Homo sapiens: one gene and its partners. The protein of the gene in region 3 interacts with the protein of the main gene of each other region in a pairwise test. Each region holds a gene or a part of one and is shown on either strand. Other genes may lie near its edges.

Region 1 (7,447 bases), on a different chromosome or scaffold from region 3:
TGATAGATTGTTTCTTTTTGGTAAATGGGTATTAACAACATGCCCCTTGTTTCAATAGATATTCAGAACATCCTGTATATAATACTTTAGAGTTTACAAAGCTCTGTCACATTTATTATCTCAGCTTTCTAATTTCTCCTTGTTACTGATTATCATAATTTATGTTCAAGGAGATTAAAGGGAGAGGCATCTTTTAACTAATGTTTCAGTTATCCTTTGCTGTCCCCAGTACTAGCTGTTCCTTAACAGTAGGACAAATTCCCATGCCATCTGCCCTACTGGCAGGGCACTGGTTGGTGTTTATGTATGCCCTCTTCCAAGCCCCTAGAAGTGTGGAATACTGTGTTGTGCCCAACTGATCTCTCAGGTAATCAATCAGTCCAACCCATGGAGATGGGGTAGGCAGGGAGGAGGAGGTGAGAGACCTGGATTCAAGTTCTGTTATGGTTCACTGACAGGACACAGGTTCCCTCTGGTCTTGTTTTCTAGATTGTAAAATGAGTAGAAAGCTCACCTATGTCCTCACCTCTAATGACATGCGGTAACACAGATAACTCATCCCGTTTTCTCCTTCATACCCAGGGACCTTAAGTCATTGCAAGGTAGAGGTTAAAAGCACCAGCTTTGGAATTACACACACACACACACACACACACACACACACACACACACACACACCCCCCTGCTGGACGTGAATCATAGTGTTATCATTGATGAGCAGAATGGTTTTGGCCCATTAAATAACCTGTCTTTGAGCATCTGTATATGTAAGGACACTTGTAAGATGCCCAGTACAAATGAGATGCTCAATGAATGACAGTTTGTATTATTCCTTGTTAACCCCATATGATATTTCTCTTTTCTTGAACTCTGCCTGAGTTACAGGACAGATATCTACAGCTATAGGAAGGGCCTGTGAACACTGGCATATTCAAGGTAGGGCACTCTAAGGGGGAGTGAGGGGAACCATGACCAAATCCCCTTGGCCCACACTGGGCATCCTGATACATCATTTGAAGCACAGAATTTTAAATTAGGATGTTTCCTTAGGAATCAACTAGTCTAGCCTCTGTATTTTACAGATGAGCAAACTGATGCCCAAAGAGGTCATACAAGTTAGAAAAAAAGAACCAGAACTAGAGCCCCTTATCTCAAATCCAGGTTTCTCTCCCTGAACCTTCCAGCCTCAGCTTTTCAAGGTCATGTACAAATATTCACAGAACATAACCACATTTTTACATTTATGTCTGTTTTCTCAAGGGAGGTGTGATCTAAACTCTGAAGGCCAGAGTTCCAATTTTAGCACTGTCACTTACCAGCAATGTGACTGTGGGCACATTATTTAGCTTTTCTGTGTCAGAGCTTCCTCATCTTTAAAAGGGAGGTAATAATATCTACCTCATAGGGTTGCTATAAAGATTAAAAGTGTTAATGCATCTAAAGCACATAGAATATTGCCTAGCACAAACTCCCAATCAACTTTCTTTCCCCCCAGCTAAATCATAAGTTGTCTACATTCCCAGTGTTTTGCAAGTAGCAACTCTCAGTGGATGTTTGAAGTTTGAAAGAAAAACTGGGGTTGCAGCTGGGAGTGATACATCAATGGTTTTAGCCAGATGAGAGTTGTCAATATCAATCGATCTAATCCTAGGGAGACTCAGAATCCTTTTAATATTCTACTGGAATTCCTTGTAGGCTTGAAGCACGGGGACCAAGACCACAGGATTTTGTCAGCCTTAAGAGACAAATTTTCTCTCTAAATCACAGACTGTGACAAGTCAGATCATAACACCTGGATCCCACATTGTCCTGTTACTGTACAAAGCAGAGTTCAGGAGAAACGCTACCCAAGGAACAGCATCATAGACTGCTCAGCAGAGAGTCCTTGGTGGGAGAATTACTTTGCTTTCCTTCTTCACCAAAAATGTTACAAGTAAACACTGGAAATGGTGCCTGGCACACTGTATGTGCTCAAAACTATGCGGGAGGTAAGGGCTGGAGTGGGAAATTGAGGCAAGGAGCAGAAAAGACATTCAGCCATGAACTTAACCTGGCTAGGACGGTCTCTGTCAACTTGATGGGGGTGAAGCACAAGGGGTTCTGTGCTGGGAGAGAATCCTGTTCTAGACCTCTGTGATCTTGGGCAAGTCTCCTAATTTCTATGGACACCAGCTTCTTCATTTTTAAAAAGGAGCTGAACTACCTGCATGTCCTCCAGCTCTAATATTCTGCCTCCCTAAGTCCTTTAAAGCATTGCAAATTTCCTCTTGGAAAAGTCATCTTAGAAAGTAAAACATTCCCCTGGACATTTCTTTCAAGCCCAGCAAGCTATTAATTATGGTCATAAAGTTAATTAGTTCCCCGGACTTCCAGTTCTACAGGTCTGAAAAACAGGATTACTGGGTCCAGGAAAGGCCCAGTTCTGGTGAAACCAAGGCTCGGCTGGGAGCTGAGTCATTCTTCTCGTAGCAACTTTTTCTTACTCCTATCAGATTGCGAACTGCTAGTCACACCACCTACAGGTGGTATCCCAAACCTGATGCCCTTGAAAGAGTGGTAGCAAATCCCAATAGCTCTAAATCTGAAACCATTGCATTAAAGATGTTGTTACGATTATTAAAAGCATTATCAACTAGGATCACATGCGGCTACGTGTCTCGGTGGGCGACAGCTAAAGAAACTTGCAAGCCCGTTGTTCCACACCAATTTCAGCGCGATGGAGACCTCTCCAGTCTCTCCACATCTTCTCTTTGCCGGGCGGAGGGAGGAGGCTCTCTCCATCCCCACGACTGCCGTTCTGGGGGGCAAGTCGAGACGAGCACGCCTGGCTGCTACCTCCGCACCCGCGTCCCACAAGCTTGCTTTCGGGGATCTCACACATCAACATGGAATCTCTCCAGAGGCCAGAGGAGAATGAGGGGCACTCGCGAGGACTAAGGTAGAAAGCCAGGATCCCCGGGCTGCGGGCGAGCGCGTCTCCCATGGCTCCCCAGGCTCAGCCGCTGCCTCTTCTGGGCAAATGCAAAGCAAGCAACGCACCCACCCCCCGCCCTCCCCGGAGGCCGACCTGGAAAAGGAAGAGCGGGAAGGTGTCTACAACTGTTCCTCAGCCACAGACAGTCCCAGGATCATGGCCCAGAGAGAGAGAGAGAAAGAGAGAAAGGGACAGGATTAACTCACTGCTGCTCCAGATCATCGGCCATAGTAAACAAGCCTTGCCAGGTCCTGGCGAGCCCGCCCAGCGCCTGACGCCAGCACCAGCTGACCCGGGAGGCCGCGGGGAGCAAGGGGGCGTGGCCGCGCAGGGGGCAGGGCTCGCGGCGGGCCGGCGGTCGGCGGTGGGACCCTCAAAACTCTGCAACTTGGTTTCAGCTAGTGGGGCCCTTGCTGTGTTTTCAATCACTGGCATGTGTCCCGGCAGAGATGTCTCTGACGGTCTCAGAATGGGACAGTAATCCTGGTCACACATTTGGGGGAGTCCTTGCAGGAGCTCCGACAGCCCTCCCTTCTCTCATAACTAAAAAGTGGTAGAACTACGCCTGCACGCTCGCACCCACTCTTTGGGCTTCCCATTGTAACTGTGTCCTCCTGAAATCGACCCTTGTTAATGTTCCTTCTAGTAAGAGGCTTAAATGTTTGTGGAGACAACGCCATTGGTTGAATGCTCCTACAAAGGGCCTGGATGCCAGATTTCGAAACTAAAATACAGGACACCTAGTTAAATGTAAATTCCAGATTTAAATAAAGCAAATACTTTTTTAGAATAAGTATGGGCCATGCAGTATTTGGGACATAAGTAGGCATCCTGTATTTTCTCTGGCAAACCTAAACCTATATGACATCTGCCAAAATGGGCATATCTCTGCTCTGATGTTGACTCTGACCCCAACCTATTTTCCAGGGAAAATATAGCTCAACTCCAGGTCACCCTCAGTTTGGAGGATAACAGTTGAAGGACTCACCAATAAGGCTAGGTCTCCTTTCGGTATGTAAATGCGGGGACAGGGAGATAAGGCTGGCTTGGCCCAGAGGTCCTGAGTGCACTTCAGTTTGCTCAGCAGAGGAGCTAAATCTTGAGGCTGGCTGCTGAATTTGCTTGTACCGGTAAACAGGGCCTGACCTCCCTGGAACTGTCAGATTTCAGATCATCCCCTTAGTTAAAACCAGACTAGGGGTGGGGCGCGGTGGCTCACGCCTGTAATCCCTGCACCTTGGGAGGCCAAAGTGGGTGGATCACTTGCAGTCAGTAGTTCGAGACCAGTCTGGCCAACATGGTGAAACCCCATCTCTTACTAAAAATACAAAAAATTAGCCAGGTGTGGTAGCAGGCACCTGTAATCCTAGCTACTGGGGAGGCTGCGGCAGGGAGAATTGCTTGAACCCAGGAGGCGGAGGTTGCAGTGAGCCAAAATTGTGACACTGCACTCCAGCCTGAGAGACAGAGTGAGACTCCATCTCAAAAACCAAAAACAAACAAGCAAACAAACAAAAAAAACCAGACTGGGGAGTGGTGGAGGATGGGTGAGAGAATGCTGGTGCACAGGGGTTTATCAAAGCATTTTTCTTTAGCCTTCCTGCAGGACCCAGATGATTCTGAGATTTCTTCTTTGTAGCAACACAGTGTTAAGCTGATCATTATAAAGACTTAACGTTTAGGAGAACCAGCATTTATAGAGTTTAGGGGCTTAGGAATTTGCCAGATGTGGTACAAAGTAGTTCAACTAGCAGAGGACTTGTCTCTTTCATGCAACCTTTTTTTTTTTGAGACTGATTCTCACTGTCACCTAAGCTGGAATGCAGTGTCATGATCATGGCTCACTGCAGCCTTGAACTCCTGGGCTCAAGGGGTCCTCTTGCCTCAGTCTTCTAAGTAGCTAGGACTACATGTGCCCAGCTAATTTTTTTTTTAGTTTTTGTAAAGATGGGGTCTTGTTATTTTGCCCAGGCTGGTCTCAAACTCCTTGGCTCAAGCTATCTTTCTGCCTTGGGGTCTCAAAGTGCTGGGATTACAGGGGTGAGCCAACAAACTTGGCTTCGTTCAATCTTTCAACAAAGCACAGTGGTTCTAAACTTCAGTATGCATAGAATCATCTGGTGGATTTATTAGAAATTCAGATTTCTGGGCTGGGCATGGTGGCTCACGCCTGTAATCCCATCACTTTGGGAGGCCGAGGCAGATGGATCACGAGGTCAAGAGTTTGAGACCAGCCTGGCCAACATGGTGAAACCCCATCTCTACTAAGAATACAAAAATTAGCCAGGTGTGGTGGCGCGTGCCTGTAATCCCAGCTACTCAGGAGGCTGAGGCAGGAGAATTGCTTGAACACGGGAGGAGGAGGTTGCAGTGAGTTGAGATCGTGCCATTGCACTCCAGCCTGGGGGACAAAGCAAGACTCCATCTTGGAAAAAAAAATTCAGATTTCTAGCACCTACCCTCTGAGATTCAGATTCAGCTGGTTTGGCTTGATGCTAGAAAGCCGCATTTTTAGGAAGCACCGCAGATACTGGTGCTCCACGAGACTCACTGGTTGGTTAGAAGTATAGATTCTGGAGTCATGAAGCCTGGTTAAGTTCAGTATTTGCTTTGCCACTTATCCACTGTAAATCCTTGGCCAAGTTATTTAGCATCTCTTAATTTCTTCCTCTGGCTTGTATCTTGTGAGAACTAACCAAGATAATTCAAATAAACATGTGGTACACTTATTTGTGATACGAATATTACTTATTTTTGTTGTTGCTGTTATTCAATGCCAAGAATTATGTTGAGCACTAAAAATACAATTATCCAGCCTGGGCATCATAGCAAGACTCTATCTCTACAAAAATGAAAAAAATTAGCTGGGCATGGCAATGCACACCAAAAGTAACAGCTACTCCGAAGGGTGAGGCAGGAGGATCACTTGAGTCTAGGAGTCAGAGGTTAGAGTGAGCTATAATCCCACCACTGCACTCCAGCCTAGGTGAGAGTCAGACTCTGTCTCTAAAAAAAGAAAAAATAAATAAAAGCAATTATCAAAAGGAAATAAACAACCTGCTCTAGTGGTAAACACAGACTTTCTATCTGTTGCTACCCTAGGCTGTTCTTGGCTTTGCAGAGCTGATAACTTTGTATTCAGAGCTCAGCTCAAACTTCCCCTCATCTGAGGCATTTCTTGACCACAGGATCTAAAGAGAGCCCCCCATCACTCTGTCACATTACCCTATTTTTATTTTCTTCATAACACATAACATTATCTGAAATTATCTTGCATTGTTTTTACTCATTTATTATCAGTTTCCTTCCACTAGAGAATAAATTTCCTGGGGGACCCTCTCTGTCTTGTTATCTGCTGTGCTCCCAACACCTAGAACAAAGTGTGGCAGAGTAGGCACTCAATATTTGTTGGGTAAATGAAGAAAAGTCTAGTGAAGAGGCAGAAGCATAAACAATTACCTATGAAACAATATACTAAGTGTCAAAGGCTTTGGGAGCTACATTCTAAATTGTACCAAATAGAAAATTCCATACTGTATCACTCCCAGACAGGACAATAAAATCTCCCACTTTTCTGAAAACCTGTAAGTTGTGAGATTTTTTTAGGCAAGGACGACTACACATGAACTGGTATTAGATCTCTCTAGACCATTTCTCAGGAGTGCAGAGAAGTGTTTGTATTTTGTTTTCATGTGCGAAATCAGCTTTAAAGTAGAGGTTTCTTGGAAGTAGGAAACTTGAATGGATGGAAAATGCCTTTAATAACCAAAGTTACCACAGTTTTTAAGGTATCCCCAGTGCTGATGTATCTCAGGATCAGGACGGATCTGCTAGAATTACACAGAGTAAAGAGGACTCTCGGAGCCTACTCTAAGGCAGGCCTCTGGGGAGAAAATGTAAGTTATTTTTTTTCTCCTTATCATCAGGACAAAGCACACCATGAGCAAGTATGAGACTCCAACAAGTGTGGATGGAAATTAATTTGACAAATCTGAAACCATCTTTGCAAAATTATGACTGAGACAGTGAAAGAGATCTAACTTAACTGACTCCATCTCGCTTCTAACCAGGTTGTCCTTGTTCATTCCTGGGCATAGGCTGAACTAACTTTGGGAGAAACTTAGTTTATAGTTTGTGGTTTGTGACAGATAACAGCCCTTTCCCGGGGCTGACTTCCTTGTTGCCTGGAGACTAGATTGCCTTTGTAACACTAACATTAGCCATAAGATTGGAAATTATGGTTTGGGAGTCATGCAGCTGGAGGCTACAAGATTCTGACCCTCCCTAGACTGCTCCTAAGATCAGTGCTTGAGATATTTGGTGACCCCTGCACTTGATGGATCAGCTGGTACCACTCAGATTGATGAACTGGCTCATCTGATCTTGCAGCGCCCCCCACCCAGGAACTCAGGGCAAGAAGACAGCTTGGACTCCTTATTATTTCTTCCCCGACCATCAGGACTCGTGGCTCAC
Region 2 (7,254 bases), on a different chromosome or scaffold from region 3:
GGTTGCTGGCAGCTACAGGAAGCCAGGAGAGACACCATAGATGCTTCCCTCTCAGGGCCTCCACAAGGAAACATCTTTTAATACATTTCACTTCTTTTTTTTTTGAGACATAGTCTCACTCTGTTGCCCAGACTGGAGTGCAGTGGTGCGATCTTGGCTCACTGCAGCCTCCGCCTCCCGGGTTCAAGTAATTATCCTGCCTCAGCCTCCGGAGTAGCTGGGATCACAGGCATGTGCCACCACACCCAGCTAATTTTTGTATTTTTAGTAGAGTCGGGGTTTCACCATGTTGGCCAGATTGGTCTCGAAATCCTGACCTCATGTGATCCACCTGCCTCGGCCTCCCAAAGTGCTGGGATTATAGGCGTGAGCCACCGCGCCCAGACTTTTTCTTTTTTTTTTTTTTTTTTGAGACATAGTCTTGCTCTGTCACCCAGGCTGGAGTGCAGTGGTGCGATCTCAGCTCACTGCAGCCTCCGCCTCCTGGGTGCAAGTGATTCTCCTACCTCAGCCTCCCGAGTAGCTGGGACTATAGGCACCCGCCACCACACCCAGCTAATTTTTGTATTTTCAGTAAAGATGGGGTTTCACCATGTTGGCCAAGCTGGTCTCGAACTCCTGACCTTAAGTGATCCGCCCACCTCGGCCTCTCAAAGTGCTGGAATAACAAGCGTGAGTCACTGTGCCCGGCCAAATTTCACTTCTGTACCTTGTTGCTGGTCTCTTCCTCAGTAGAACAGAGCCTGTGAGGTACATCTCTCATGCTGTCCACTGTCTCCCAGAGCCTCAAGCCATTCCAGAGACACAGTAGGTGCTCAATAAATATTTACTGAGCGAACTCAATGAATGAATGAATCAGCGAAAAAAGATCAGAGAGAGGTCACCCGCCAAGGTCACCCGCACCACTAGTGAACAACCAAGCTATTGTTTGAACCGAGGCTATGCTGCTTCTTTCCCTGCCCAGGCCACATCTTCAAAGGACTTAAGTCATCAGCAAATGGTCACCCAGCGGGCCTCACCCGCCTCTGCCACTTCTACCCTGCCCCTGCCTCTGTTTAAAATCTCCTGCCTGGGAGATATATGCTTATTCACTTATGTTCTTTCTACATTTCTATATATTTATACATTTCTATAATAAAATAGGCTTTTTTTAACTTTTTTTTTTTAAGAATCTTGCTCTGTCACCCAGGCTGGAGTGCAGTGGCGTGATCTTGGCTCACTGCAACCTCCACCTCCCGGGTTCAAGTGATTCTCATGGTTCAAGTGATTCTCATGCCTCAGCTTCCTGAGTAGCTGGGACTACGGGCACCCCCCACCACAACCGACTGATATTTATATATTTAGTACAGACAGTTTCACCGTTTGCCAGACTGGTCTCGAACTCCTGGGCTCAAGTGATCCGCCTACCTCGGCCTCCCAAAGTGCTCAGATCACAGACAAGACATACCAAGCCCAGCCTTAACTTTTAAAAAAATAGAAAAAGAAAAAAACAACCGTGGCTCCAGAGGCCATAGGTGCCCTGTGGAAGAGCTTGGAGGCAGGCAGACGGGGGCTTGATCTCGACTCCACCAATTATGAACTGTGTGATCCTGGGCACAACCCGGGCCCTCTGAGACATTCAGTTTCTCCATGTATGAATGGGCTGATGGCGGCTGTCTCTCCGCACTGCAGGAAGGAGTCAATAAGCCAGACACAGCAAGCGCTCAGCAACAAGGGGCTGTGATGGCCACTGTTGCTGGGGTTGTTATTATTCAAAGCAAAGTGCGGAGCTGCAGAAGGCAGTGGTGGGATGTGGCGAGGGGTGAATGCAGCAGGCCTGGGTTGTCCAAACCCCGCACATTCCAAAGAAAGGACCGGCCCTGGACCAGCTTCTGGGAGGGAACCTCTAAGCCCTTGGAATGTCCTGACTGATAAGAGTGTCTTGGTTTACCTGGGGCCTGGGGCCACACTGGATGCTGTGTGTTAATGTTGTCATCTATGGTCAGGGCCTGGAGCCACTGAGCATCAGTTTGACCTCGGAGGGGCTGGAGTCTCAGGTCAGCCACCATGCATATGTGACTGACCCCCAGTAAAAACCCTGGCCACCCAGGCTTACAGGAGCATCCCTGGTTGGCAGTACTGCTTGCGTGTTGTCACACATCTTGCTGGGAGAATTAAGTGCCGTCCATGACTCCACCGGGAGAGGACAGCTGGACGCTCACGCCTGGTCTGTCTTGGATTCTGCCCCATGTGCCTTTTTCCTTTTTTTTTCTTTTTTTTTTTTGGGATGGAGTCTCACTCTGCTGCCCAGGCTGGAGTGCAGTGGCACAATCTCAGCTCACTGCAACCTCCGCCTCCTGGGTTCAAGTGATTCTCCTTCCTCAGCCTCCTGAGTAGCTGGGATTACAGCTACTGGGATTACAGCGCCACTATGCCCAGCTAATTTTTGTACTTTTAGTAGAGACAGGGTTTCACCATGTTGGCCGGGATGGTCTCGATCTCCTGACCTCGTGATCTGCCAGCCTTGGCCTCCCAAAGTGCTGGGATTACAGGCGTGAGTCACCACGCCCGGCCCTCCTTTTTTTTTTTTTTTTTGAGACAGAATTTTGCTCTGTCACCCAGGCTGGATAGTGCAGTGGCAAAATCTCAGCTCACTGCAACCTCCGCCTCCTGGGTTCAAGCGATCTCCTGCCTCAGCCTCCCAAGTAGCTGGGATTATAGACATGCGCTACCAGGCCCAGGTAATTTTTTTTTTTTTTTTTTGAGATGGAGTTTCACTCTTATTGCCCAGGCTGCAGTGCAATGGTGCGATCTTGGCTCACTGCAACCTCCTCCTCCCAGGTTCAAGCAATTCTCCTGCCTCAGCCTCCCGAGTAGCTGGGATTACAGGCATGCACCATCACACCCAGCTAATTTTGTATTTTTAGTAGAGACGGGGTTTCTCCATGTTGAGGCTGGTCTCGAACTCCTGACCTCAGGTGATCCGCCCGCCTCGGCCTCCCAAAGTGCTGGGATTACAGGCGTGAGCCACAGCACCTGGCCTTTTTTTTTTTTTTTTTTTTTTTTTTTTTGAGATGGAGTCTCACTCTGTCACCCAGGCTGGAGTGCAGTGGCGCGATCTCGGTTCACTGCAAGCTCCGCCACCTGGGTTCAAGCGATTCTCCTGCCTCAGCCTCCTGAGTAGCTGGGATGACAGGCACATGCCACCACACCTGGCTAATTTTTGTATTTTTAGTAGAGACGGGGATTCATCATGTTGGTCAGGCTGGTAATTTCTGTATTTGCAGTAGAGACAGGGTTTCGTCATGCTGGCAAGGCTGGTCTCGAACTCCTGACTTCAGCTGATCCACCTGCTTTGGCCACCCAAAGTGCTAGGATTACAGGCGTGAGTCACCGCGCCCGGCAGTACTACCATCTATTAATAGATCCTCCCACAGCAGTTTCTCAGCCCAGACCTCTCCCTTCACCTCCAGATCCACATATTCAAGTCTATCTTTCTTTTTTTTTTTTTTTTTTTTTCTGAGACGGAGTCTCACTCTATCGCCCAGCTGGAGTGCGGTGGCGCAATCTTGGCTCACTGCAAGCTCCGCCTCCCGGGTTCACGTCATTCTCCTGCCTCAGCCTCCCGAGTAGCTGGGACTACAGGCGCCCGCCACCACGCCCGGCTAATTTTTTTTTGTATTTTTAGTAGAGACAGGGTTTCACCGTGTTAGACAGGATGGTCTCGATCTCCTGACCTCATGCTCCGCCTGCCTTGTCCTCCCAAAGTGCTGGGATTACAGGCATGAGCCACCACGCCCGGCCTCAAGTCCATCTTTCTACCTGCCTTTCTAAAAGGCAGCTCAATGGATAAAGAAAATATGGTCTATATACACCATGGAATACTACTCAGCCATAAAAAGGAACAAAATAATGTCTCTTGCAGTAATTGGATGGAGTTGGAAGGCCATTATTCTAAGTCAAGTAACTCAGGAATGGAAAACCAAATAGCCGTATTCTCACTTTATAAGTGGAAGCTAAGTAAGCTATGAGGGTGCGAAGATACACAGAGTGATATAATGGAATTTGGGGACTCAGGGAGGGGGGTTGGGATGGGGGTGAGGGACTACATATTGGGTATAGTGTACACTGCTCTAGTGATGGGCACACCAAAATCTCAGAATGCACCACTACAGAATTCATCCATGTAACCAAAAAGCACATGTACCCCAAAAACTACTGAAATAAAAAATGTTTTAATTAAAAAAGAATGGGCCAGGCACGGTGGCTCACGTCTGTAATCCCAACACTTTGGGAGGCCAAGGCAGGTAGATCACGAGGTCGGGAGTTTAAGACCAGCCTGAGCAACATGGTGAAACCCCATCTCTACTAAAAATACAAAAATTAGCCAGGCGTACTGACACACGCCTGTAATCCTGGCTATTCGGGGGACTGAGGCACAAGAATCACTTCAACCCGGAAGACAGAGGTTGCAGTGAGCCAAGATCGCACCATTGCACTCTAGCCTGGGCAGCAGAGTGAGACTCTGTCTCAGAAAAAAAAAAAAATATATTAGAATAAATAAATTCATAAATAAATGGTAGCTCAAATTCTTAAGTCCAAAACTGAGCTCTCAGTCCTCCCTGCAGATCTTTCTCCCCATCCCACCACGGTCTCCCCCATCCCAGTAAATGGCAGCTCCATCCTCCAGGAGGCTCAGGCCAGAACTGCTGGAGACGCACCCCTACTCCTCTCTCTTCCTCCCCAGAACACCCCCACAGCCAGCACATCAGCAAAACGCTGATGCCTTCCAACATAACCAGCATCTGACCGTTTTTCACCATTTCCATCGCTATTACCCTTGTCGGAGCTTCCATTATCTCTCCCCTAGACAAATATAATAGACTCTTTCATAGATGTCCCTGCCTCTGATAGTCTGTTCCCTACACTGCAGCCAGAGAAATCCTGTTAACACCTAAATCCGCTGCTCACATCTCTCCTCAGCTCAGAGCCCTCCCATGGCTCCCGGCTCACTCAGAGTCAAAGCAAGGTCCTCGGCCTGGCACAGTGGCTCACGCCTGTAATCCCAACACTTTGGGAGGCCAAGGCGGGTGGATCACTTGAGGTCAGGAATTCAAGACCACCCTGGCCAACATGGTGAAACCCAGTCTCTACAAAAAGTACAAAAATTAGCAGGGGGAGGTCGTGGACGCCTGTGGTCCCAGCTACTCAGGAGGCTGAGGGAGGAGAATCGCTTGAACTGGGGAGGCGGAGGTTTGCTGTGAGCTGAGATCGCACCACTGCACTCCAGCCTGGGCAACAGAACAAAAACTCCATCTGAGAAACAAAAACAAACAAACAAAAAAACAAAGCAAGGTCCTCACAGTGGCCCACAAGGCCCAGTACGATCTGTCCCCATCCCCTCTGCCCTCATATCCCACCCTCCCCGCACATTCACTCTCCTGCAGCCACAGTGGCCTCCTCACTGTTCAATACTCCAGGCCTCCACTCACCTCAGGGCCTTTGCACTTGCTCTTCCATCTGCCAAGAACATCCTCCCCCAGGCATTCATCAGGCTCGTTCCCCCTCTTCACTAAGCCTTTAGCCCACATGTCACCTCCTTGGGGAGCCCTTCCCCACCCACCCCGTCTGAAACAGGCCCCATCTCACCCCTCTTTGTTTTTTTTTTTTTTTTGAGACAGAGTTTCCTCAGTCGCCCAGGCTGGAGTGCAGTGGCGCAATCTTGGCTCACTGCAAGCTCCGCCTCCCGGGTTCATGCCATTCTCCTGCCTCAGCCTCCCGAGTAGCTGGAACTACAGTCGCCCCCCACCACGCCCAGCTAATTTTTTTGTATTTTTAGTAGAGACGAGGTTTCACCGTGTTAGCCAGGATGGTCTCGATCTCCTGACCTTGTGATCCACCCGCCTCAGCCTCCCAAAGTGCTGGGATTACAGGCGTGAGCCACCGCGCCCGACCCATCTCATCCCTCTTTATCTCACTACTCCGCCTCATTGTTCATGGCACTTATCACCACCAGGCATCATATTTTATATTTATTTGATTCCTTGTCTCCCCACTTGGAATGTTGGCTCCATGAGGGCGTCACTTCACCTGTCATGTTCACTATTGAATCCCCAGCACTTAAAATAAGGGCCAGGCTCCAAGAAGGTGTCAGGGAATGTTTGCTAAATGAGCGGATGCTCGAACAAGCACCACAGGGCTGGAAGGGCCCCGTCCTCACCTGCAGCCGGGCCAGGATTTGGTGGTAGTGGAACAGGGTGCAGAAGTCCACGTGGGCCGAGAACGCCTCCAAAGCCGCCTTCTCTGCCGGACTCGAGTGGAATTCCTGTTACCTCAGGAAGCAAAACTTCTCTGTAGGCCTTTTCCCCTTCCCCGAGGGAAAGAATTCTTTCCCTGGCTGCCTAACTACACAATCAGAGCTCTGGACTTTGAAGTTTTGTTCTGGGGCTGGGCGCAGTGTCTCGCACCTGTAATCCCAGCACTTTGGGAGGCCGAGGCAGTGGATCACTTGAAGTCAGGAGTTCAAGACCAGCGTGGCCAACATGGTGAAATCCTGTCTCTACTAAAAATACAAAAATTAGCCGGGCGTGATGGCATGCACCTGTAGTCCCAGCTACTCAGGAGGCTGAAGCTGGAGAATTGCTTGAACCAGGGAGGCGGAGGCTGCAGTGAGTCGAGATCGTGCCACTGCCCTCCAGACTAGACAACATCAAGACTCTGTCTCAAAAAAAAAAAAAAAAAAAGTTTTGTTTTGGTTGGGTGGGGGCTGACCAATTTTACTGAAACTGAGGCAGCCAAATATAGTGAAAAACTATACTGGGCTTAAAAAGCTGGAGGTTCAAGTTTTTGCTTTGACATTTCCTAGCCAATACACACACACACAATTCCAGGAACGGTTTGACAGTGTAATATCATCCTCCAGAAGTAGATGGAATTATTATTATTATTATGTTGAGACAGAGTCTCGTTCTGTCACCCAGGCTGGAGCTCAGTTGTGCAATCTCAGCTCACTGCATCTTCAACCTCCTGGGATGAAGCGATCCTCCCACCTCAGCCTCCTGAGTAGCTAAGACTACAGGTGCCCACCACCATGCCTGGCGAATTTTTTTCAATTTTTTGTAAAGGTGGAGTCTCACTATATTGCCCAGGCTGGTCTGAACTCCTGTGCTCCAGCAATCCTCCCACCTCAGCCTCCCAAAGTGCTGGGAGGCTGAGCCACCATACCCCCAAGGTTGATGGAATTATAACTCCCATTTGTCAGTGGGAGAAACTGAG
Region 3 (8,027 bases):
GAATGTACTTAATGACATGTACTTAGAGCATACTTAGAAATGGTTAAAACGGTAAATTTTATGTTCTAGGTATTGTACCACAATAAAAATAACTTTTAAAAATGAAGGTGAAAAAAAATCCCGTTTATTCTTTATTTTTATTTTTATTTTTTATTTTTTACTTTTTTTGTTTGAGACAGAGTCTTGCTCTGTCACCAGGCTGGAGTGCAGTGGCGCAATCTTGGCTCACTGCAACCTCTGCCTCTCGGGTTCAAGTGATTCTCCTTCCTCAGCCTCCCGAGTAGCTAGGACTACAGGCACGCGCCACCACACACAGCTAATTTTTCTATTTTTAGTAGAGATGGGGTTTCATCATGTTGGCCAAGATGGTCTCGATCTCTTGATCTTGTGATCCACCCGCCTCGGCCTCCCAAAGTGCTGGGATTACAGGCGTGAGCCACCGCACCTGGCCCCATTTATTCTTATGTGTTTCCACTGAAGACCCATAGGTATCATCCCCACTCCACTCCTCCAGCTCTTCTGGGACAACTAGAAACCGTTGAGATTTGGGGGTAAAGGGGCATTACTTGGAGGCTAATCCTCACCTTCTTGGTCCCTCACATATCCAGTTGTCTGATACACTCTCTACCCTATACCCAGCAGGACACAGTGTCCTTTGAGAGGGGAAATGAAATAGAGAAAAATATATATGAGAAAGTATCATTTTCTGGCAGAAAAATGAGTACATTTTAATTAGAAACACTGCCTCGGCCCGGCGCGGTGGCTCATGCCGGTAATCCCAGCCAGCACTTTGGGAGGCCTAGGTCGGCGGATCACCTGAGGTCAGCAGTTTGAGAACAGCTTGGCTAACATGGCGATACCCCGTCTCTACTAAAAATACAAAAATTAGCTGTGCGTGGTGGCACACACCTGTAGTCCCGGCTACTCGGGAAGCTGAAGCAGGAGAATCGCTTGAACTCGGGAGGCGGAGGTAGCAGTGAGCCAAGATCCTGCCATTGCACTCCAGCCTGGGCGACAAGAGTGAAACTCCATCTCAAAAAAAAAAAAAAAAAAAAAAGCTGCCTCAGAAGAGCATTCTTGGGTGGGACAGGCCCTACACCTAAAAGGACCCGCTCACATAGCTCATCCTCTCTTGACCTCTTTCCCCTGCTCTCTCTGCCCCATCTCTGCCCACTCTTTCTGGGACCCGGATTTGACACGGTTGCTGCCACCCCAATAGCAAGTCTCTTAGGACATTCCTGTGCTCCTCACTTTCCTGGCTGAGGGTCAGAACTTATCAAAGGGGTCTTTTTGAGGAAGTTAGGGGAAATGCAAAGGAAAACAAAAGGAAACTATGAAAGTCTAGAAACAACTAAGTTTACTAACAAAATGACTTTCTTCTCTCGATATAGCTAAAGTCAAGCCATCAATGGGCTTAGCATGTTTTGATTTTAATAAGGCTTAATAAGTCTGCATTTTGAGAAGGCTGTGGACCCCTCTGGCAGTCTGGTGAAGCCATGGACCCTTTCTCTGAATAATATGTTTAAATGCACAAAATAAAATACGCAGATTTACAAAGGAAACCCATTATATTAAAATTCAGTTATCAAAATATTACCCACAATATAATATAGTAACATATGTGCTTCTTGATGTATGCATTAAATAACCAGATCTAACAGCAGTGCCAATAACTACTGGAATTTTGAAGTAGTCGTGAACATAAATGAAATTTCGAGATGCCTGCAACAACTATAATATGAAATGCAAATCTCTGTGATGTCTGTTACTGACACTCACAGGTACTCCTAACACTTCGTGGTTTATTGCCTACATTCATCATTGAAGGAAATACTACATTTCAGTTAGAGGTTAGTGGAAAGAAAGAGGCAGTTTTATTCATCCCAATTCAAAGTAACCCCCATCCACCCTGAATTTTTGGTCTATAGGACCCTGGTTGAGAGCCTCTGCTCTAAGGGTCATATAGCCTCCCATGGGTTGGAACCAGCTGTCTCCTACCTGTCTCATCCTTCAGGATGACATTATTTCTCCTCATCCAGTTTTCAAGCTTGCACCTGTAATTGACCACCCCCAAATCCCTGGTTTCTGGCAGGGAAAATCTTGGAGCTGTCAGCCCGTTTGCCGTTTGCACTCCAGCCTGGGCGACAAGAGTGAAACTTCATCTCAACAACAACAAAAAAAAGCTGCCTCAGAAGAGCCTTGGGTGGGAGAGGCCCAACATTGTTGACTTCTGTGCTGTGAGTCCACAGAACAACTGGCTCTTTCTCAAAATTCTGTCTGAGATGTCACTCAGGCAGCCCTCAGATTTTCCAGAATTGTCTCACCATAACCATAGACTAGAAAATCACCCTACACCTACCTAGTAACACCAACTCTGTAAGCCACCACCACTTCTGCCCTGTCCCTGAATATGACTCTTTTCAGCTAGTTCATAGGGGACAGCTCCTGAGAAGACTGGAGTGATTTTTTTTTTTTTTTCATCTTGAGACGGAGTCTTGCTCTGTCACCCAGGCTGGAGTGCAGTGGCACGATCTTGGCTCACTGCAAGCTCCACCTCCCGGGTTCAAGTGATTCTCCTGTCTCAGCCTCCCAAGTAGCTGGGATTACCAGTGCATGCCACCATGCCTGGCTAATTTTTGTATTTTTTTTTTTTTCAGTAGAGACGAGATTTCACAATGTTGGCCAGGCTGGTCTCAAACTCCTGACCTCAGGTGATCCACCTGCCTCGGCCTCCCAAAGTGCTGGGATTATAGGCCTGAGCCACCGTGCCTGGCCTGGAGTAATCTTTAAACCAGAACAGCTGCAGCCTCACTCCTGGCCTTTGTGCCAGCCAGATCCTTCCCAGAGGGTGGAGATCACCCAGATGATCTCTTTGGAACCCTCCTCATCTGGAGATTGGCCACTCTTTTGGTTTGTTCCCCATGTGCTCTCCAGCCCTTGGGGTTCACTCACCTAAAAATATATAGACTGGGATCCATTGCAAAACAAAGAAGGTTTGGAGGCCCTCCTGGAGATTCAGTCGGGAGAAGAAAGCCATGGTTATGGTGCTGTTCTGTTGTGGCAAGAAGCCTAACCAGAAGGTCAAAACTTCTTAAGCTGAGTTGATTATAGATGCTTTGCTATAATCTCTTACTGTGGAGTAAGATTAGCTGCTGGGGTTTTGTCAGGCTTGACCAAACTTTTCCTCCACTGCCCCGCCCCAACTTCCTACCCACACATCAGGTTGCAGATCAGGCAATATAATTGATCTCCCCAGTAGTATCCTTTCTCCACGTGTGCCCAATTGTAATGAAGCAGAAATGGCCCTGGGGCGGCTCTAGCTGTGGGGGAGGGGCACTCTTGATAAATCAGCGCAGGAAGAGAGTATCTTGGGCCTCAAATAGGACCTCCGAAAAGCACCCCACTACCTTTCCCTGCTTAAGAAAAGGGACTTGGCAGCCACACTTGTTCCTGCCCTAGTGGTTACCCTTTGTCTCCTCTTGTCTTCTGCTGAGTCACCTAGCCCACTGGGGCTGTTTTTCTGCACCGGATATCTGTTAATAGACTCTTCAGATCCCTCTTTGTGCCTCTAGTCCCAAGGGACCTGCCTCAGTGGCCAGATACCTTATCATAGAGCGGGAGAAACATTGCACAGAAGGAAGACCTGGCTCCCAGTCCCAGCTCTGCCATGCTCTTCCTGTGACACCTTTGGAAAATGTTACATCTCTCTAGAGCTCAGTTTGAGCATTCATTGCTAGAATGTAATATAGGTTAGGGGCATAGACTTTAGAGCCAGATAGCTGGGGTTCACATCTCAGCTCTGTCACTTACAAGGTGGTGAACCTCTATGCCCCAGTTTCTCCATCTGTAAAAGTGGGACTATAATAGTACCTACTTCTTAGAGTAGTTCTGAGGATTAGATAAGTGAATGAATATAAAGTGCTTAGCACACAGCCTGGCACCGTTTCCTGTCATTACTACTCACTGAGTTCAAGTAACACATATTGAACAAGTAACATATGTTTCAGGCTGAGGCTTGCTTCTGTGTAATAGCCTTTGGAAAACTGAAGACTGTTCCCAGGTCTCAGACCGTTTTTTTTCTGTTTGTTTGTTTCGTTTGTTTTTTTTTTTCCAGACAGAGTCTCACTGTGTCGCCCAGGCTGGAGTGCAGTGGCGTGATCTCGGATCACTGCAACCTCTGCCTTCTGGGTTCAAGTGATTCTCCTGCCTCATCCTCCTGCGTAGCTGGGACTACTGGCGTGCGCCACCACGTCCAGCTAGTTTTTGTATTTTTAGTAGTGAGAGAGTTTCACCATGTTGGATATATTTTTTCTGTCACTATCTATTGAGTGACTGCTGTTTGCCAGGCACTGTGTTTAGGTGCTGAGGATTCAGTAGGGAAGAAGACAGACATGATTCTTGCCTTCTTTGAGTCTACAGTCTAGTGGAGGAGACAGACATTAAAACAAAAAAAAAATCACAAAAATGTTAGGCTGGGTGCGGTGGCTCATGCCTGTAATCCTGGCACTTTGGGAGGCTGAAGCGGGAGGGTTACTTGAGCCCAGAAGCTCCAGACCGGCCTGGGTAACATAACGAGATGCCATCTCTACAAAATAAGTAAATAAATAAATAATAAAATAAAATTAAGATAAAATGTCTGTACACTTGAAGTTGCAATGTGTCCTACAGGAAAAGCCCAGTACTCCCAGCAGAAGGCCTTGAATATAGAAGGTAGTCAAAAACATCTGTTAAACATAACTGAAGGGGTTGCTGGGAAAATGAGATACAAAAATGGTATCAAGGGTTCTATAAGTGCAAGGGGGCATTGGTCCCTTTTCCAGGGAGATTGTTGGAACTCTGTCATCTCCCCACCCCCACTCTGCTTTGGGCTTCCCGCATTAGACTGACCAATGTGACTCTTCAGAGCTGAGCTTGGGGAACTTTTCTGGTATGTCAGGGTGTGCTTTCACTCCCCCGTGTGCACTAGATGGTCATCTGACATGCGACACCTTCCTCTTCCTCCTCTTTCTTTTCTTCCCCTTGGGCTAGCTGGGGTTCTCCAGCTGCTTCTTGGGGCTGCTTGACCACATAGAAGGTGAGATGTATCAGAGCGTATCTGCTCAGAATTTGCACGGGAGGAGGGAGGGAGGTAAGAGAGGCAGGCTTGGCTCTGCTCAGGGAAAGCAGAGATATGGAGGGGCTTAGAGTGCCCAGGCCAGACGAGATCCACAGTATCAAGAGCTCCAACGCCCCTTACAGATCAGGTCTCCGCTCCCCTCCACTTTCAGATGGGTGAATGGAGGAGATCTGGAAAGGGCTCAAGGTGATGCAGGAACCAGAGGCAGACAGGGCCAGACAGTTTTCTACCTCTGTCTCCCTAACATCTGGGTCAGGGTCTGGTGCAGAGCAGGCACTCAAGTAAATGTCTGTTGAACCTGTGAGGGAGACCAGGTCTCTTGATGCCTCAGGCAAGATAGACTGACCCAGATTGGCCACCCTTTGCTCCCAAAGACAGAGCACGCTGGCCCAGCTGGAGCTCTCTTGAGCCAAATGGACAAGTATAACATAAACATCAGTGAACAAAGAAAGAGCAAGAAGAAGATAATTAGGCTAGCAGATAAACCCTGAACATCCAGCACTCGTGATTTCCCAGTTACAATTCATCAACCAACAAGCAGAAGCTTGGCAGCCTCAGAGTAAGCAATAAAGAAGGAAGGGTTGCCAAGGAGCACAAAGGGCCTGCCAATTTCATTTGTAGACATTGAAGGTTGACGTGATTCCCACCCTCAAGAAACTCACAGTCCAGTGTTGGAAGTAGGTGTAAAAGCAGACACCTGCATGGGGTGCTGTGGGTTGCACAGACGAGAGAAGCACCTGCCTGCCCTGGGAGGTGAGGGAGGGGTCTGTGGAAGAGGGCCTGCTGCAGTGAGGAGAAATGGATCAGGCGAGAGAGGCCTGGACGGGCAGTCCAAGAGACGGCCGTGAGCTCATCAAACGGGGCTGTGATAAGCTGGACCCCAAAGAAACTTCAAAGGAGCAACAGAAAAACAAAGAAAGGAGAAAAGTGGAAGGAAACAGATCAAGGGGACCGGGACCAGAGAGCTCAGAAAGGGTGGTGGAAGTGAAGGGGTAGCTCTGATTCAAAGCTCTGATTCAGAAAGGGTAGCTCTGATTCAAAGGTTCACCCTCAGCCTTTGGAATGACTCATTTCCAGACAGCTTTGGATAGCTGAGGTTTTGCCATAATTTGTTTTCTTCTGATCTTCTCCCTCTGTCATACCCTTATATGGTTAGGTATTACAATTTCAGCTCAATTGAAAACATTAGGCCCAGGCATGGTGGCTCACGCCTGTAATCCCAGCACTTTGGGAGGCTGAGGTGGGCGCATCACTTGAGTCCAGGAGTTTGAGACCAGCCTGGCCAACATGGTGAAACCCTGTGTCTACTAAAAATACAAAAATTAGCTGAGCATGGTGGTGCAGACCTGTAGTCCCAGCTACTCACTTTGGAGGCTGAGGTGGAAGAATCTCTAGAGCCCAGAAGGTCGAGACTGCAGTGAGCCAAGAATGTACCACTGCACTCCAGCCTGGATGACAGAGCAAGACCCTGTCTTAAACAACAACAATGGAGAACCTATTTAATGCCAAGCACCAGGCTAGGTATTCTAGAAGGAGTGTACCTAATCCCTTCATTCACCAAATTTTTCTTGAGGCCCTACTTACTCTAAGTCTGGTATTGTTCTAGGTTTACAATTGCATGTGTGTTGGGTTATGGGGCAGGGGGCACGGACAGGGAATGAAAGAAGTGCATATGTCATCAATACAAGGATTGGGGCCATCAGAGAATTCCAAAGGAGACAGAGACGAACACTAGCAGCTGTGTGACCTTGGACCAGACACTTCCTCTCTTTGAGTCTTGGTTTCTTCATCTGGTAAAAAGGATGCATCCTATTTCTTTGCTGTGAGATGTAGTGGCAGTGTTTGAAAAGCTTCTCGTGCAGTGTCTGCCATCCAGGAGCTGTTCACTAGCGCTCCTATTCAGCTGTGGGGAGGGAGTATTTGCAATGTGCTCTAACAGGTTGAGAAGTGGGGAGGATGACATTTCCTACAGTGGCCCAGCATACACAAAAGACCAGAGGTTTGCTTTGGCACACGGGGTGGTTTAGTTTGATAGGAGTCTCAGGTTGGTGGAGGGGAGTAGAAGAAGAGAAGGCTGGAAAGCGATAAGTGGAGCTGATTTCCTCACAAATCTCTTTACGTATCTGGAGGCCTAGATACGTAAAGAGATTTATGTTTCACTGGATTCTAGGTCTAGAATCCAGTGAAAGTAGACCCAGGAGTGGTGGTGGGACGAGGGGCCTGTGGAGATGGAGGGTAGGGCAGAACAGGGGACGTTTAAAATCCCCTGGAAGCAGTAGTGACTGGATCACTTCTCATGGCAGGCAAGGCCCCAGGGAACAGCGGCCTCCAGTGTCCTGGTTCAGGGTCTTGGGGGAGGGGTGGCCAACCCTCCCAGTTTGCCTGGGATGAGGAGTTTCCCAGGATGCTGGACTTCCAGGGCTAAAACTGGTATAATCTTGGGCAAACTGGAACAGTCGGTCCCCCTAGTTTGGGCCCTTGTCACTGTCTCCTGGACTACAGCAGGTTGTTGCCTGCTTGCCTCCCTTCCTTTGGTCTCCATTCTGCAGTTAGAGGGGCTGCTGTCAAACACAGCTCTTACTGTCTCTCTGCCTTGTTTCAAACACTCCAAAGGCTCCATTGCCTCTGGGATCCAATTCAGACCCCAGGACCTGGACCCAGAGCCCTAGAAAGGGAAACACTGGTTTCCACCCTCCTTGAAAGTCTCATTTCCCATCACTTTCACACCACACCAGATACAGCCTAGTTCCCCAAACCGGAAGTGTCCTTTCCTATTCTGAGCCTTTGCCCATAGCAGCATCCTATCAACCTGACTGGCTCCTACCCACCCTTCAAGATTCAGTGAAAATGTCATTCCCTGCTCTCTCCTCTGGGTTTCCAAGGCACATTATACATACTTTTGGGAGAGCAC
Region 4 (7,288 bases), on a different chromosome or scaffold from region 3:
TCACGGTGTTACCCCAAAGTGCTAGGATTACAGGCGTGAACCACGGCGCCCGGCCAGAACTAAGCTTTTTATATCGTTTAGTTTAGGAGCAGGAAGGTAAAAATAAGATCATGGTCTGGACATGTTAAATTTGAGGAATCAGGCACAAACATCTGACAATTAGAAACATTACCAGAGTACAGAAGAGGGCTCCAGAAAGAAAATGAGATCTGAGTCATCTCCACAGACAAGACAGTTCACGTTTGAGTAAACAAGATGAAAAATAAAAACAAGGATGATGACAGAATCTTGGAAAATGACTACATTTAGAGAATGCAAAAAAAAAAAAAAGAGGAGAAACTAATAAAAGTTATTGTTGGTCAGGTAAGGTAAGATAAAAGGCAAAATGTCATTAAGACCTAGAATGTCTAATAAGAGTTTCAAAAAGTAGTAGCTATCATTACAGTAACAAACACCAAAAAGGACCCAAGAAGAAGTACTGAAAAAAACTAGAAGGCCATTGGGATGTGGCAGTGAAAAGTTTTGTGATTTTTAAGATATCAGGTGGCAAAGGTTTGGGAAGGAGAGAAGGCAGCAGAGAGAAAGGCACATATCTTGCCAGTTTTTAAAAAGATTAGATAGAGAAATCCACTCTCCTATCTCCAAGGCAAAGACCTACATTCACAGTCTAATGTAAACCCAGTGGGGAGCTGGCAAACAAACTGAAGCAGGGAGGGGAGAGAAAAATCCCTTATTTATACCTTATTTATAGCATTTGATGATTTCCGTGGTGTAAATACTCCCACCATGGCCAATTTCAAGCTGCCAACCGTTGGCAAAATTCCTGAAAATTTAGCAATGGCTTGCTGGTACAAATCAACTCCAGCACACAACTGCAAATCACCTCTTTTATGGTCTACCCTGCAACTGAGCAATTCTGTGACAGCTTTCTCTCAACTCAATTGACACTAAATCATTCTCTAGGACAACTTAAAGCAATTCACAGAAGTCTACTCTACTCTCATTACATTTAGCTTTCTCAACTGTATTGCAACTGAAAGGGGTTGGATGTTGAAAGCAAAATGGATCCCAGTATGCCTGTCTTCACTAAGTGCCACAAAGCAAAGGACAAGAATCATATTCTCCAAAAAGCCATCAGATGACCATTTTATAACTTTCCTTTGTTAATGTTATCTCCCTATCTAAACCTCAAATGTCTTAAGGGTAGGGAACTGTATTCAAACAAGAGCCAAACATCCCACATGAGTCCCAATTCCAGTGACAGGCAGCAGGGATACAGGGTAAGCACCTTAGATTAAATCCAGACACCTCAAAGGGTTCCACAAAGGGTTCCAATCCAGCCCTGCTACTTGCTGGCAGGCTGTTAGCAGCCTTTACAGTGGCAGTTTCAACTGCAAAATGGGAACAATAATACCCAGCACACAGGGGCAACCTTGGATTTAACAGGATCACTTCTGGGGATAGTCACTGGACACTGCTAAAGCATATTGCCAAGAATACCAGCGAAGCCCACTTCTGTCTAGAAACTATGGCTGATCAGCTGCTAAGGATTTTTTAATCATCTACCTCCAATGACCTCCAACCATCACTCCAAGCCATAAAACCCTTTCACGATTGTGTCCTGGACTCCAAGGCCCCACTACATCAAAACCAAATAGTCCACCTGAAAGTAGTGTCAAGAGTCAAAAATGTTGTGACAAACAAGATGAGAACACAACCTACCAATTACGTTCCTACTTGCGTCCACATGACATTCAACATTTCACCTCAGTGCAACGAGGAAGTTCATCAACAAACCTCAACAAATAAACAAAACTCAAGAGAATAACTTCCTTTCTAATATTTCACAATTTTTCCCCATGACATCTTTCCAAATATCCCTGTCTTCATGGTACTCCATATTCTATCATTTAGGTTATGTTTCCTAGGCAAATTTCTCCAGACGTCTGAAGTAGAACCGACGTCAAAAAATTAAATATATATGGGGGAAGTTTACTTTCCAATACAAACGACAGGCCTTGAGAAACAAGGCAATAACCTCCATAACAATTTAATTATTCCACTCATTAACTACTATTCTTCTACTAACAAGTGCAAGAAGTCATTTAGGTGTAGAAAAGAATAAACTCACTATACCTGTATATAAAAAAGTTTCACATTAGACATCTGCCCTCCAACTTCCACAGTTTCCTATACATTATGTGTGTTCTTCTAAGGCACATGCAACACACACTTCGCCAGTAAAGCCAGAATAATCCCAGAAGCGCAAACAAATAAGGGACAGTGGAGCTTGCAAGCCAAAGACCTTCATCCGAAAGATGAATTATGACATTTGAACGTGTATCTCTATCTTAAGGGCTAACTTTCTTTCTATGAAGTATCTGAAACTCACAGCCATACACCCACTTCCCTCACTCCTTCTCCCCTCCCTCCTTCCCGGCACCCCCGCCCTCCCGCCGCTTCCCGGGCGAATTCGGGCCTCTAATATCCCCTCCAAGGAAGCGCCGCCCCTTCCTACGGCTACGGGAAGGATCGTCCAGTGGCTGAGGCTGGACAGAGCACAGGTAGTACCTGTAGACGGAAGCCGCGATGGGAGGCTGACAGACCCGGTCATTTCCCGCGCCTCGCAGTCAGGTGCAGGGTCGACCGGGCACCGCCCGCCGGCGGCATTGGGGCAGGCCGGGTCCCTTGGCAGAGCCCGAGCCGGTGCGGCCGCCGCGGCCAGCTCCGTCGCCGGCCCGCGGGGTGGCTTATACAACAACGGGGCGGACCCTCCGCGCGGGGTCAAGGCGGCCTCCCGGCGCGGCCGGAGTCCGGCTCAGACACCTCGGGGCCCCGACGCTGAGGGGAGCCTCTCCCAGGCAGAGCGGCGCCGGGACGCCTCTGGGCGCCGCGCGGACTCATGCCGGGGAGGGTCGAGGAAGCCGCCCGTCGTCGCCAGGCGGGCGGCGACTCCTTGGTGCTGCCCGCTGGGCCCTAACCCGGCCCGCGCGGAGGGTGCGCGCCGGAGACACACGAAGCCCCCTGCCGGCTGCGCTTACCTCTCTCCGGTGTCGGCAGAGTCCACCTCCTCCTCCTCCGCCGCCATAGCCGCCGCCGCGCAAGCGCCGGGACTTATCTCGAAGCCGGCTGACAGGCCGACTGGGCCGCCCCGGGCTGGCGCGGCACTTAAGGCGGCGCAGGCCGCCAGCGCATGCGTCTTCCGCGCACTAGCACGGCCCGGCGGCGCGCCCGCGTTTGCGCGTGCGCGGCCTTGCCTCCGGCTTTGCGTCCGCCATCCCCAGCCAGCATGCACTAGTTCTCCCGCCCGACGCTCCCGGGTGTAAGCGCGGGGCGGGACAGTCAGCCCAGAGGGACTGGCGAGACTCACCCGAATGAGTTAGGTGTTTTAGCTAATTTGAATAATGACTGTATTCATGCATCACCCCGTCGGTGTTGGCTGTCAGGTGGCACCTTGGGGACGGAGGTGCGTCCGGTCCTGGAAGAGCCTAGCTAGTGTCCGATAGATGGTGCAGTGGCAAATGAAATGGCGTAATCGAGGTGCTGTGTGGCGTCCCGCCAGCCTTTCCCCGCGGGTTGGGGGGCCAGGGGGAGAGGGCGACTCACAGGAGCCTTCAGTCAGTTGAGCACTGCTCTAGGTGCTGATGTTACTGTAGTGGCCAGAGCCAGCAATTTCCCTCCCACTCGACTCTCTAGATACCTGGGAGGGTGAAAAGAGTCGGTGTTGGCCGGGCGCGGTGGCTCAGGCCTGTAATCCCAGCACTTTGGGCGGCCAAGGCGGGCGGATTTTCTGAGGTCGGGAGTTGGAGACCAGCCTGAGCTGAAGAAACCCCGTCTCTATTAAAAATACAAAATTAGCCGGGCGCGGTGGCGCATACCTGTAATTCCAGCTACTCGGGAGCCTGAGGTAGGAGAATCGCTTGAACTCGGGAGGCGGAGGTTGCGGTGAGCCGAGATCGCACCATTGCACTCCAGCCTGGGCAACAAGAACGAAACTCCGTCTCAAAAAAAAAAAAAAAAGTCTATGTTTAGGTACTTCGAGTTATTGAGGTGAAATGACTAACCTAAATAGCAGTATTTCTTGACCTGTTTTCAAGCCTTTTAGCAATCAGGTGCAACCTGCTTTTGGAATTCTGCCACCCACTACTACTCATCCATTTATGTTTGGTGTGTGTCTACTATGGGCTCACTTTGTTCTAGGTGCTTGAAAACAATGGGTTGAAATACTGCTCCTGTTTTGATAGATCCTACGCGAATATATTAACCTTTATTTTAGACTCAGTTCATTGTTCTCCTTCCCTGACTCTCCTCCCTCTTTTTCTCTCCTCTGAGCCCCACTGTAAACCTGTCTTTATCACCCATCTAGCTCTCAGGTTCTCAGCCTTGTGTAATTGTTACAGCTTTTAAATAAACATTATCGAATATCTTTCCAACTACACGAGAAAGTCCTCTAGGATAGGAATGGTGTCTTCTGTAATTTAGAGGGGGGAAAGCCACTTATAATCTCTTAGGCATAGTAATAACTAATACATTTTTTATTGTGTTTGATCTAATTCATAAAATATTTTAGGGAAGACCAGAACATATAAAAAACATTTTTACAGGAATTCCTGGTTGTTTCATGAAAGGGCCGTATATTCAAAGTGACCTCCAAATACAGAAGGAGCTGAGAAACTAAAGAATGAAGGAGACAAATCCAGCTTGTCAGCAAAAGGTGATTTATTAGGGAACTTACGGACAGAAGCATGGTCTTGGACAGCAGCAAGACAGGTAAATCTCTGTGCTGTTACCCTCCCAGACTAAGGTTGTTTTGACCTAAGGGCAGGTAGGTAAGTATGTGCTCTGATACAATTTGGGTGTTGTCCTCTCTAAATCTCATGTTGAATTGTGATCTCCAGTGTTAGAGGTGGGGTTTGATGGGTGGTGATTAGATTCTGGGGGTGAATTTCTCATGAATGATTTGGCACTATCCCCTTAATGCTGTCCTTGCAATAGTAAGTTCTTGTGAGATCTGGTTGTTTAAAAGTGTATGGCACCTACCCCTCACTCTCTTGCTCCTGCTCTAGTCATGTAAGATGCCTGCTCCCGCTTTGCCCTCTGCCGTGAGTAAATGCTCCCTGTGGCCTTTCCAGAAGCCAAGCTGATACCAGCACCTGTATAGCCTGCAGAACCATGAGCCAATTAACCTTTCTTTATAAATTACCCAGTCCCAGGTAATTCTTTTTTTTTTTTTTTCTAAGACGGAGTTTCACTCTGTTGCCCTGGCTGGAGTGCAGTGGCATGATCTTGGCTCTCTATGACCTGCACCTCCCAGGTTCAAGCAATTCTCCTGCCTCAGCCTCCTGAGTAGCTGGGATTCCAGGCACCCGCCACCACGCCCAGCTAATTTTTTGTATTTTTAGTAGAGATGGGGTTTCACCATGTTGGCCAGGCTGGTCTTGAACTCGTGACCTCAAATGATCCTCCCTCCACTGCCTCCCAAAGTGCTGGGATCACAGGCATGAGCCACCGCGCCCAGCTGTATTTCTTTATAACAATGTAAGAACAGCCTGTCACATGCTCTTATACAAGGAACAATAGATAAAGTAGAAAACTTGGAGGCCTTCCCAAAACTGGGGTTACTCAGAAATCAACATTGTGGATTAGCATCTGAGATGGAGTTACTTTAGCCTCCACAATAGTGTTGCCAGACACTTGTAGTGTGTCTGCAGAAACTGATGCCCTACAATCCCACCTCTCAGAGTGTCTGTTGAAGACCCTACCGCCTGGAACACAGTGCAAGCCCAGTGGTACTGAGTCCAGTAATGAAACCTTAGGATTTTGCAGCAACTCCTGTAGCGCTTTGGTCTTTATGGACCTGGAGTCTGCTCTCAAAGATGCCTGTGCCTGCTGCACAGTCACAAAAAAAGAAAAGAAAGAAAAAAAGAGAGAAAGAGACCATTGATCCAATACTAGAGTTTATGCAGAAACTGACAAGCAGTGCATAGGACTACAGGACTTCATGATCTTCCTCAACTCTGGGAGTAGCTCTGTTCTAGCTTCACCTTGCTGCTGATGGAGTCATCTTCAACAATGGCAAGAAATCCAAGCTAGAATTGGCCATCCACCTATCCCCTGGGTGTTGCCAGCAATGGTGGAACCCTACAACTCTATCCTGACCACCGTGCCACCCTGGAACCCTTGGACTGTGTCTTCTTGGGAGACAATGGACCAACACATGTCATTGCAACCTATACCCCCAGGGCCCCACATACTTTAACCACTGCTTGGACCAGACTTCCTCCATCACTACCTCCCTGAACTTTGATGGTACCCTGAAAGCAGACCTCTCAGAGTTTAAGGCCAGCTTGGTCCCCTACCTCCAAATTAACTTCCTTTTTGTGACCTACTAACCAATTACCTGGTTGAGCAGTGCTTACATTTGGAGATCGCCAGTACCTACTTTGTACTCTCCAATCAGATGGCCAGATATGACACTGACCAAAGCAAGTACAGAGCTTGCTCTGCATGTTCTGCCCCAGGGTTGTAGCCTAAAGACTGAATGCTGCCATTGTCCCACCAAGACCAAGTGTGCCATACACTTGGTTGATGACTGGTGCCCCACTGGGTTTCAGGTTGGCTTTAATTTCCAGCCCTCCAATAGTAGTTCCCCAGGCAAAGTGCTGAGCAATACCACAACCATCACAGGGGCCTGGGCCTTTATCACAAGCCTGCCAAGCAAGCACTTACAAACCAGAATGAGAGTGAGGGCATGGAGAAGGGGATGTTTTATGAGGGCTTCAATGGCCTGGCTGCTTTGTAAATATTTTTTGGTTTTGGTAGAGACAGGTCTCACTGTGTTGCCCAGGCCGGTCTCAAACTCCTGACCTCCCAGAGTGTTGGGATTATAGGCGTAAGCCACCATGCCCAGCCTGTAAATGTTTATAAAGAAATGCTGTAATAAAACATATTGAGAAAGCAAATGTGGCAGGGAGATAATAAGAAGGACACAGGATGATAAGGGAAAGTGGTAGCTGGGTCAAGGGAAGGGCCTGAACATCAATCAGCTGTAGTGACTTCTCAAAAAAAAAAAAAAAATCACATGACTTTAGGGCTTCTTGGACTCTAATTTGCATGCAGACTTCTGTGGATCATGTTGAATTGTAGATTCTGACTCTGTAGGTCTGAGGTAGAACCTGAGATCTCTATTTCTAACTAGCTCCTAGTTATGCCTGTGTTCCTACTGCCAATCAGCAGACTACCCTTTAAGTAATGAGCTCTAGAGCAACCCTGTCTGTTAGAACATTCT

Evidence for each region.
Region 1: the proteins of DGAT2L6 (region 3) and ABHD4 interact in binary tests that used the Homo sapiens proteins (3 or more experiments, as listed by UniProt).
Region 2: the proteins of DGAT2L6 (region 3) and TMEM143 interact in binary tests that used the Homo sapiens proteins (3 or more experiments, as listed by UniProt).
Region 4: the proteins of DGAT2L6 (region 3) and ABHD5 interact in binary tests that used the Homo sapiens proteins (3 or more experiments, as listed by UniProt).

What each region holds. Positions count from the first base shown.
Region 1 is NC_000014.9:22,594,063-22,601,509, reverse strand, and holds the start of ABHD4 ((Lyso)-N-acylphosphatidylethanolamine lipase), read right to left. Parts: upstream 3,211-7,447; 5' UTR 3,204-3,210; coding exon 3,181-3,203; exon of another isoform or gene 3,068-3,180; intron 1-3,067. UniProt on the Homo sapiens protein: Lysophospholipase selective for N-acyl phosphatidylethanolamine (NAPE).
Region 2 is NC_000019.10:48,353,873-48,361,126, forward strand, and holds part of TMEM143 (transmembrane protein 143), read right to left. Parts: intron 6,305-7,254; coding exon 6,200-6,304; intron 1-6,199.
Region 3 is NC_000023.11:70,172,593-70,180,619, reverse strand, and holds the start of DGAT2L6 (diacylglycerol O-acyltransferase 2-like protein 6), read right to left. Parts: upstream 3,138-8,027; 5' UTR 3,038-3,137; coding exon 2,953-3,037; intron 1-2,952. UniProt on the Homo sapiens protein: Diglyceride acyltransferase that uses fatty acyl-CoA as substrate. Particularly active with oleate as a substrate. Has no wax synthase activity to produce wax esters.
Region 4 is NC_000003.12:43,686,793-43,694,080, reverse strand, and holds the start of ABHD5 (1-acylglycerol-3-phosphate O-acyltransferase ABHD5), read right to left. Parts: upstream 3,144-7,288; 5' UTR 3,089-3,143; coding exon 3,042-3,088; intron 2,984-3,041; exon of another isoform or gene 2,572-2,983; intron 2,565-2,571; exon of another isoform or gene 2,487-2,564; intron 1-2,486. UniProt on the Homo sapiens protein: Coenzyme A-dependent lysophosphatidic acid acyltransferase that catalyzes the transfer of an acyl group on a lysophosphatidic acid.